3 linked regions of the Homo sapiens genome follow. The protein of the gene in region 3 interacts with the protein of the main gene of each other region in a pairwise test. Each region holds a gene or a part of one and is shown on either strand. Other genes may lie near its edges.

Region 1 (3,500 bases), on a different chromosome or scaffold from region 3:
CCTCCAAGGACACACACTGTTAGGCTTTGGGTTCCCCTATCTGTGCCGTTTTTATTTCCTTGTCTCTTTTGTCATCAATATAATCATTTGAGGAAGTAAAGAAAGGACACCATATATTCCTACAAATGGATAGGCTGAGAGTAAATCAACTTGGTATTTGTGAACATGAATGATAAAAGGCAAAAACTTCTAGCTGAAATGTAGCACTCCTTCAATTACAAAGGCAGACAATAAGCCCTGGAGTTTTAGCAGGAACAGCAACAGGTATTTTCCAAAGCATTAGAGTGTCACAAAAAATCTCGTCACTACTCCCAAATGAATTACCAGAGCCACAGCTCAATCCGGTTACTAAGCTAATAAATGGGACTATCACCAATTTGGTTCAATACAGTATTTTAATAACTGTATTTCAAAATAATTTGTTCTCTTCTTCATCTATTTATTTCCTTTAAAGTGCTGTTAAGAGGCCCCCAGAGGCCAAGCAAACGTGAAAATTTAAGACGCCCCCTCTCCCACCAGAGTCTATACTTTGCATCACTTTAGCAGTTTCAGGCTGTCCTTCTAAACAGTTTCAGACACTTTTAACAATTTGCAACAAAAGTGTAAGCCGCAAATAGGATGTTACTTCTCATAAGTAGCACCTTTCTATTTCTGCTATTTACAAGTAGTATTTTTTTTTCTCTTTTTTCGGACATGGAGTCTTGCTCTGTCGCCCAGCCTGAAGTGCACTGGAGCGATCTCAGCTCACTGCAACCTCCACCTCCTGGTTCAAGTGATTCTCCTGCCTCAGCCTCCCGAGTAGCTGGGGATACAGGCTCCTGCCACCACACCCAGCTAATTTTGCATTTTTAGTAGAGACAGGGGTTGCCCCATCTTGGCCAGGCTGGTCTCAAACTCCTGACCTCAGGCAATCCACCCACCTCGGCCTCCCAAAGCGCTAGGATTACAGGTGTGAGCCACCGCACCTGGCCTCACAAGTAGTACTTTTCTAAAGTTACTGCCAGAGAAACGTTAACTACATATAGAGTACAGGAATCCCAACAAAATGCATTGTACTCAGTATCATTACCACAGAACCTGCTGGCACTTAGATCATAAGCGCAGAAGGTTAATCTTTGAAACAAGTCATACTTCACTGACCATGTTTCATCAATTCTAAGGCACACTTTTAAATGTCTGAAGTGAAAAGCATCCTTCACTGATGGGGTAAGAAAGCAGCGTGCCAGAAGGCACTGGGAGCATCTGTAGTGGTATAACACACTGCTGCATTTTAGATTCAACAGACTATAAGCACCTCATTTTTCTTTTTTCTTTTTTTCTGAGATGGAGTCTCGCTGTGTCACCCAGGCTGGAGTGCAGTGGCGCGATCTCGGCTCACTGCAAGCTCCGCCCCCTGGGTTCACGCCATTCTCCTGCCTTAGCCTCCCAAGTGGCTGAGAATACAGGTGCCCGCCACTACGCCCAGCTAATTCTTTGTATATTTAGTAGAGACGGGGTTTCACAGTGTTAGCCAGGATGGTCTCGATCTCCTGACCTCGTGATCCACCCGCCTCGGCCTCCCAAAGTGCTGGGATTACAGGCGTCAGCCACTGCGCCTGGCTATAAGCACCTCATTTTACCTTTTATTGTGTTTTGCTTTATTGCACTCAGCAGGTACTATGTTTTTCACAAGTTGAAGATCTGTGGCAACCCTGTATGAAGAAAGCAAGCCTATTGGTGCCAATTTTCCAAAAACAGGAGCTCACTTTGTGTCTGTGTTACATTTTGGTAATTCTTCACTATTTCAAACTTTGTCATTATTATGTCTGTTACGGGGATCTGTGATCAGTGATCTTTGATGTTCAGGTCAGGAACAGTGATTCATATGGGTAATCCCAACACTTCGGAAGGACGAGGCAGGAAGGCGGCTTGAAAGGATTCACCATTCTGGAAAGGAACTTAAGAGACAGCCGAGGCAACATAATGAGACCTCACTTCTACAAAACTTTTTCAAAATTAGCTGGGCATGCTGGCACATCCCTGTAGTCCCAGTTACTCAGGGGGCTGAGGTGGGAGAACCACTTTAGCCCAAGAGGTCAAGAGTGCAGTGAGCTATGATCTCACCACTGCATCCCAACCTGAGCAACAGAATGAGACCCTGTCTCTCAAAAACATAGCCAAGGCCAGGAACAGTGGATCATGCCTGAGGCTGAGGCAGGAGGACCACTTGAGGCCAGGAGTTTGAGACCTGCCTGGATAACATAGGGAGACTTCATCTCTTTAAAAAAAAACAAAAAAGGGCTGGGTGCGGTGGCTCATGCCTGTAATCCCAGTACTCTGGGAGGCCAAGGTGGGTGGATTATTTGAGGTCAGGAGTTCAAGACCAGCCTGGCCAATACGGCGAAACCCTGTCTCTACTAAAAATACAAAAATTAGCCGGGCGTGGTGGCTCACGTCTGTAGTCCCAACTACTTGGTAGGCTGAGGCAAGAGAATCACTTGAACCCGGGAGGCAGAGGTTGCAGTGAGCCAAGATCGCGCCACTGCACTCTAGCCTGGGCGACAGAGCGACTCCATCTCAAAAAAAAAAAAAAAAAGAAAAGAAAAGAAAAAAACAAGTTAGCCAAGTTGTAAATGCAAAGCAGAAGTTTCTTTCCAATTTTTGAAATTAAAAAAATACATACACAAATTTTTGAAATTTTAAATCACCTCTCAGAACAAAGGAAAACTTAAAGGCAATTAAAAAGTGCTACTCCAGTGAACACATGAATAAGAAAATGGCCAGGTCCGTTGGCTCACACCTGTAATCCCAACACTTTGGGAGGCCAAGGCGGGCGGATCACTTGAGGTCAGGAGTTCGAGACCAGCCTGGTCAACATGGTGAAACCTTACCTCTACTAATAATACAAAAATTAGCTGGACACATGCTGCACACCTGTTATCCCAGCTACTCGGGAGGTTGAGGCAAGAGAATTGCTTGCACCCAGGAGGCAGAGGTTGCAGTGAGCCATGATCATACCACTGCACTCCAACCTGGGCAATAGTCTCAAAAAAAGAGGGAGGGAGGGAAAGAAAGTGAAACAGCCTTATTGGTGATATGTGGAAAGTATGAGTGGTCTGATTAGATCAAACCAGCCACAACATTCCCTTAAACTGAAGCCTAATCGAGAACCAGGCCCAAGTTTTCTTCAATTCTATGAAGGCTGAGAGAGGTGAGGAAGATGCAGAAGAAAAGTTGGAGCCAGGCACGGCAGCTCACCCCTGTAATCCCAGCACTTTGAGAGGCTGAGGCAGGTGGATCACCTGAGGTCAGAAGTCCCAGCCTAGCTAACATTTAGTAGAGCCCGTCTCTACTAAAAATACAAAAAATTAGCTGTATGTGGTGGCAGCTGCCTGTACTCCCAGCTACTACGGAGGCTGAGGCAGGAGAATCGCTTGAACCCGGGAGGTGGAGGTTGCAGTGAGCCGAGATCACGCCATTGCTCTCCAGCTTGGGCAACAAGAGTGAAAATCCATCTCAAA
Region 2 (3,500 bases), on a different chromosome or scaffold from region 3:
ATATTCATGTCCCCACATTCACCTCCACATCTATCCTCTCTTTGTTCCTTTCCCTTCCTTCCTTCCCTCCCAAGCTCCATCCATGCATTCACTCACTCTCTCACCCATCAACCATCTTCTGAGGCCTCCCGTCTACTAGGTCCTGGGCTGAGATCCATGCATTCACTCACTCTCTCACCCATCAACCATCTTCTGAGGCCTCCCGTCTACTAGGTCCTGGGCTGAGATCCATGCATTCACTCACTCTCTCACCCATCAACCATCTTCTGAGGCCTCCCGTCTACTAGGTCCTGGGCTGAGATCCAGGGAGAGAGAACAGTCTGACTGGGTCCCTGATGTGAGATCACTCATTGCCTTGGGAAATGGGTCTTGTCCAACAGACATAGATACAGACTGAGACTATTTGGTGTGATTTTAGAGAGGGTCCCACCGGGGCCTGTGAGAGCCCAGAGCACGAGCAACTCACTGTCTTGTAGGACACGGAATGCCTCAGGGAGAAGGGAACTTTGGTGCTAGGTCTTGTAGGATGAAGAGGAGTCTGGGAGGAAGAGAAGGTAGGGAGAGGTCATGAAGGTAGGGAAACATTTTGTGCAAAGGCTGGGAAGCAGGAGAGAGCCTGAAGTGTTCAGCAAAAGTCAAGCAGCTTGGTTCAGGTGACTTTGGGGGGAGTGACGGAAGTAGCTGGGGTGTGATGGCCAGGCGGAGGGCTGGGGCTTCCTCCTGAGGGCAGTGGGGAGCCACAGAAGAGTTCTGAACATGAAAGGGAGAACCACTGATGTGGGTGTCAGAAATACCCCACAGGATAAAAGAGGACAAATAGGGTGCAATGTATGCTGCTTGGGTGATGGGTGTACCAAAATCTCACAAATCACTACCAAACAGCTTACTCATGTAACCAAACACCACCTGTTTCCCAATAACCTGTGGAAATAAAATAAATAAATAAATAAATAAATAAATAAATAAATAAATGAAAAGAAATACTCTGCGGACCAGGCATGGTGGCTCACACCTGTAATCCCAGCACTTTGGGAGGCTGAGGCGGGTGGATCACTTAAGGTCAGGAATTCGAGACCAGCCTGTCCAACATGGCAAAACCCTGTTTCTACTAAAATACAAAAATTAGCCAGGGGTGGTGGCGTGAGCCTGTAGTCCCAGCTACTCGGGAGGCTGAGGCAGAAGAATCGCCTGAACCCAGGAGGTGGAGGTTGTAGTGAGCCGAGATCACGCCACTGCACTCCAGCCTGGGAGACAGAGTGAGAATCTGTCTCAAAAAAAAAAAAAACCAAAAAACCCAGTGGGGACTGTGCTGGGAAGAGGTCAGAAGACCCCAGGAGGAGGCTGGGGCAATGGACCAGGCGGGAAACAATAAGACCCCTAAAGGGAAGGTGGCTTGGGTGAGTCACAGAGCCAATGAGTGAAGAAGGCAGAGGGACATCCTCCCTTCCTCACTCCCTGATGGCCCCTGTCCGTTCCCCCACCCGCCAGGGAGGTGGTGGAGGAGGAGAAGAAGAAGAAAAAGAAAGATGACGATGACCTAGGCATCCCCCCGGAGATTTGGGAGCTCCTGAAAGGGGCAAAGAAGAGCGAGTACGAGAAAATCGCCTTCCAGTATGGCATCACCGACCTCCGGGGCATGCTGAAGCGGCTGAAAAAGGCTAAGGTCGAGGTCAAGAAGAGTGCAGGTCAGCCCTGGTCTGGGGGGAGCTGGGCCCTGCACACAAGGGACCCCTAGCCTTGTGGGTGTCTAATGATTGGACCCTGGACCTATCTTTTCGAGGTCCCAATGAGGTAGGAGGCAAGACCCAACTCTAGCGGTGGGCCTCGGACACCAGACCAAATTGAGGACTAGCTAAAACAGGGACAGGGTGGAAGCAGCTTTCCATAAGACATGCCCACCAGTGTGCCATGTCAGTTTACCATGGCCATGGCAACAGCCAGGAGTTACTGCCCCTTTCCATGGCAATGACCAGACCACCCAAAAGTTACCACCCTTTTCCTAGCAATTTCTGTATAACCTGCTCCTTAATCTCTAGGTAATTAAAAGTGGGTATCAATCTGACTGCAGATCTGCCCTGAGCCGTTGCTCTCTGTCTCTGGGGTAGCCCTGTTCCGCAGGAGCAGTCAGAGGGCTGTAACACTGCCACCTCAATAAAGCTGTTTTCAGGCTGGGTGCAGTGGCTCACGCCTGTAATCTCAGCACTTTGGGAGGCTGAGGTGCGCAGATCACCTGACGTCAGGAGTTCGAGACCAGCCTGGCTAACATGGTGAAACCCCATCTCTACTAAAAATACAAAAGTCAGCCGGGCATGGTGGTGTGCACCTGTAATCCCAGCAACTTGGGAGGCTGAGGCAGGAGAATCGCTTAAGCCAGGGAGGCAGAGGTTGTGGTGAGCTGAGATTACGCTGTGGCACTCCAGCCTGGGGAACAGAGTGAGACTCTGTCTCAAAAAAATAAAATAAAATAAAAAATAAAATAAAATAAAATAAAATAAAATAAATAAATAAAAATAAAGCTGTTTTCTTCTACCTAACACTGGCTTGCCCTTGACTTCTTTCCTGGGTGAAGCCGATAACCCTTGCAGGCTAAGCCCCACTTTGGGGTCCCCTGCCCTGCATCACCACCAGAGAAGTTCTCAAGGATCTCTAAGTTCATAGGAGGCCCCCTGACTTCCTCACTTTGACCTTGGAGAGCCCAGGGCCTGGGGAGGGAGATGTGGTGCCTCTGGGGATGACCAGGGGAATGAGGACCACACGCCTCCATCCCCTTTGCATGCCTCAATCTTCAGCATTCACAAAGAAGCTGGATCCAGCCTACCAAGTGGACAGAGGCAACAAGATCAAGTTGATGGTAGAGATCAGCGACCCAGACCTGACCCTCAAGTGGTTCAAGAACGGCCAGGAGATCAAACCAAGCAGCAAGTATGTGTGGGGTGGGCAGTCCCTGCACCGGGGAGATCCCCGTCCAGAGAGAACGCCCGGAGACAAGGCCTATCACTCTTAACCAGAAAGGGCATATTCACCCCTATATGAAGAGTACAGGCCGGGCACAGTGGCTCACGCCTGTAATCCTAGCACTTTGGGAGGCCGAGGCGGGTGGATCACCTAAGGTCAGGGGTTCGAGACCAGCCTGGCTAACATGGTGAAACCCCATTTCTACTAAAAATACAAAAAATTAGCCGGGTGTGGTGGCACATGTCTGTAGTGCCTGTAATCCCAGCTACTTGGGAGGCTGAGGCAGGAGGATCGCTTGAACCCAGGAGGCAAGAGGTTGCGGTTGCGGTGAGCTGAGATCTCGCCACTGCACTCCAGCCTGGGCGACAGAGTGAGACCCTGTTAACAACAACAACAACAAACACATCACAAGACAACCTTTTTTAAATTAATTACCTAATTTTGTTTTGAGACAGAGTTTCGCTCTTGTTGCCCAGGCTGGAGTGCAATGGCATGATCTCAGTTCACTGCAACCTCTGCCTCCCAGGTTCAAGAGATTCTCCTGC
Region 3 (3,500 bases):
TTGTGACGAAAGTGACAGTCCTTAGACCTAACTCTGAAAAATACCGCCTCTTCTGAGCACTCGCTGTGGCCAGCCTCCATGCTTTAGAGCATTGTCTCTTTTGATCAGCACAGTCCCCCTGCAGGGAGGTATTTTTATACCCTTTACAAATGAGAAGACTGATGGCAGAGAAAATGAGAACCTTCCATGAGGTCCACAGTGGTGGAGCGGCGAAGCCACAATTCAGTCTCCTCTCATTCCAGAGACTCTGCTTGTCGCCATTTTGCTGGACAGCCTGTTGCTCAGGAAATGCCACCTGTTCTTTCCTTCTGTTCCTTTCCTCCCTCTTCCTCATCTTTTCCAAGGCTACTAGAAGGAAAGACATCAGATCCTCAGGGATCATCATCATCATCATCATCATCATCATCATCTTCATCACCACCATAGCCCATATTAATATTTGGCTCTCTACGCCCATCTCTATTCTAAGTGCTTTACATATTTTGACATATTTATTCCTCATAACAACTTGGTAAAGGTACAATCGTTATCTCCATTTTACAGATGAAGACACGGAGGCAAGCGCAGGATAACCGACTTGTCTACGATTACATAGCTAATAAGTAGTTGAGCTGGGATGACAACAAAGGCTTTTTTTTTTTTTTTTTTGAGATGGAGTCTTGCTCTGTCGCCCAGGCTGGAGTGCAGTGGTGCGATCTCTGCTCACTGCAAGCTCCGCCTCCCTGGTTCATGCCATTCTCCTGCCTCAGCCTCCCGAGTAGCTGGGACTACAGGCGCCTGCCACCACGCCTGGCTAATTTTTTATATTTTTAGTAGAGACGGGGTTTCACCGTGTTAGCCAGGATGGTCTCGATGTCCTGACCTCGTGATCCACCCGCCTCGGCCTCCCAAAGTGCTGGGATTACAGGCGTGAGGCACCGCGCCTGGCCAACAAAGGCATTCTTGTCCCACAATCCATGGTCTTAACCAATACTGTTCTAAAAAGTTCCAATTTCAAGCTCTTGGGCTGCCATAGAGAGAAGGTACAGCCCCCTTCACCTACTCTGTTTCCCAATGCTGTGGAAGTTCCTGAAGCAATTTCTCAAAATCAGCATTGACACACAGGGCTCAGGGAGTTTCACAGTGTACAGAGCAGCACGCCGCCCTCCTCCTCGGCCAGGCAGGAGCTCTTGCTAGAAATGCATTTGCATTTCGGAGGCTGAGGCGGGCGGATCACAAGGTCAGGAGTTCGAGACTAGCCTGGCCGATATGGTGAAACCCCATCTCTACTAAAAATACAAAAACTAGCCAGGGGTGGTGGCGCATGCCTGTGGTACCAGCTACTCGGGAGGCTGAGGCAGAAGAATCACTTGAACCCGGGAGGTGGAGGTTGCAGTGAGCCGAGATTGCGCCACTGCACTCCAGCCTGGGTGACAGAGCCAGACTCCGTCTCAAAAAAAAAAAAAAAAAGAAAAAAATGCATTTTACGGTGCAGCATCCACTTTCTTCTCTCCGGTTCAGTGCCTCTTGGGATCAAGGGTCCAGTCATTGGCCTTGGACCAAGAACAAAATGAATAAATGCCTTGGTGTGGGCTCTGTTATTCAAGGCACACTCGCGTCTGGTGTGTGGCATAGCTAGGGGTATGGTTCGCAGCTAGGCCTGGGGCCTGGAGACATAACCTTCCCTGTTCTCTTTGACTTTCCTATCAGAGTACCTATGAGCCACAATGATGATACTATAGGAGTCACTTTGACTCTACTCGAATTACTAAATTCTACTCTAGCATTCTGCTTCTAGAATTACTAGAGAAAATTACTTCACTTTGGGGTTCACTCATGAGCTTTTTCCATCGTGAGCAAACACCATGATGCCTTCCTCTTGCTGGAGCCCTGTGAGGATGAGGAAGCTACGCTGAGACAAAGCCGTGCATGAGAGCTGTGCTGCTCTGCCTGCCACGTGCACACACATTACCAGAGCGTCTCATAAACATGCAGTCTCTGATTCAGTAGGTCTCGGATCTGTCCTGGGTTTCTGAATTTCTAGCCGACCCCAGGGCATACAAGTGCCACTGGCCCACAGACTGTGATTTGTGTAGCAAGGTTCCAAGGTGCTGGTACGCTTAGTAATGTTTGCAATTACTTCGCAGTGTGTTTTCTTTCTAATTACAAAATGTTCTAAACATACATATGATAACAAAGTAATAGAGTAGTCCTAAAGATTGAATAGTTATGTTTGCCTCGGATCTTTCTGTGATGACATAAAATGCAATAGAAGGAGCTGATTCCTGCCCACTCACCCTTTCTCTGTTTCCCAAGGTAGCCACTCTCCTGAAGCTGGGGTGTGCTCCTCCAGTGCATGTTTTAGACTGTGACTACAGATGCGTTCTTTTGTGTTTCAGAAGGACATCTTGCAGTGTGTTCATGCACACACACACACACACACACTTACATGATCTGCAAATTTATCTTCCTTAATTATTCTTAGCACCAAATTGTGTGTGACATGTTTTAACCAATCTGGACTCCCCAGTGTAAAATAAAACTGCCATCTTTAGAGAGGGAAGCATTTCTTGGGCTCATGATAGGATTGGGGGTCCTAGGAATACCCTAGACACACACACACACACACACACACACACACACACACACACACACACAAAATGAGAACCACCATCCTGAATCCTTGGTATCTGGGGTCAGGCTTCAGGGGGACACCTGAGCTGGGTTCTCATGGGGCTGGGTTGCCCCCTTCCTTCCCTGGCTCTGCTTTCTTCTTCTTCCTACTGCCATCCCTTTTCCAGCTTTCCAGCGGCCACCATGACCCCAGGGGGAGGAGAAGGCTTGGCTGTGGGGCTCAGGGTGGGGCACAGAGTCATGGTGAGGATAGGATGCTTCATGATGGTGACTGTGGTCTTTTTCCAGGAGACGACCTCATGCGCTGTGTGGATCTCTACAACCAGGCCCAGTCCAAATGGTTTGAAGAGATGGTGACCACCACATTGGTAAGCGGGCAGGGATGTGTGGACATGGCAGTACAGAGGCTGACACAGAGCAGCCCCTGGTGGTTGTTGGTGGGCGCGGGGATGATGGGGTGGAGTGACCCTGGAGATGGTCATCAAATCTACTTCAGTGTTGGGGTCGAAACCTCAATGTGAGCCAGCTTATGTGGATTCAGATCTCTGCTCCAGCGCTTCCTAGCTGTGTGGATGTGGGCAGGGTTGGGTTGGATATGGCTACATCCTTCTTGGGCTGTCCCCTGAGAGGTCAGGGTCAACTGAGGACTCTCCTCAACTAAGTGGACAAGGGCCTCTTTAGGAAAAATAGCCAAGCTATAGGAAGAGAGGACCGCCCCACACATGCACACACACGAGTTGCAGGTCCTTGGTAGGAGATCCTTGCAAAGTGGATGGATGGGTGAGGATGGAGCTAGGCAGTGGGGTGGGGGAGGCCTCTCACCAAGGGTGAACAACAGGCGGCAGGGCCGATGATGCTCTTGAGTATTTCTTGTAAAGGGGCAGCAT

The links.
Region 1: the proteins of GAS7 (region 3) and PKNOX1 interact in a two-hybrid assay, tested with the Homo sapiens proteins (one large-scale study listed by BioGRID and IntAct).
Region 2: the proteins of GAS7 (region 3) and MYBPC2 interact in a two-hybrid assay, tested with the Homo sapiens proteins (one large-scale study listed by BioGRID and IntAct).

What each region holds. Positions count from the first base shown.
Region 1 is NC_000021.9:42,977,562-42,981,061, reverse strand, and holds part of PKNOX1 (homeobox protein PKNOX1), read right to left. Parts: intron 1-3,500. UniProt on the Homo sapiens protein: Activates transcription in the presence of PBX1A and HOXA1.
Region 2 is NC_000019.10:50,439,392-50,442,891, forward strand, and holds part of MYBPC2 (myosin-binding protein C, fast-type), read left to right. Parts: intron 1-1,488; coding exon 1,489-1,685; intron 1,686-2,789; coding exon 2,790-2,922; intron 2,923-3,500. UniProt on the Homo sapiens protein: Thick filament-associated protein located in the crossbridge region of vertebrate striated muscle a bands. In vitro it binds MHC, F-actin and native thin filaments, and modifies the activity of actin-activated myosin ATPase.
Region 3 is NC_000017.11:9,919,107-9,922,606, reverse strand, and holds part of GAS7 (growth arrest-specific protein 7), read left to right. Parts: intron 1-2,901; coding exon 2,902-2,981; intron 2,982-3,500. UniProt on the Homo sapiens protein: May play a role in promoting maturation and morphological differentiation of cerebellar neurons.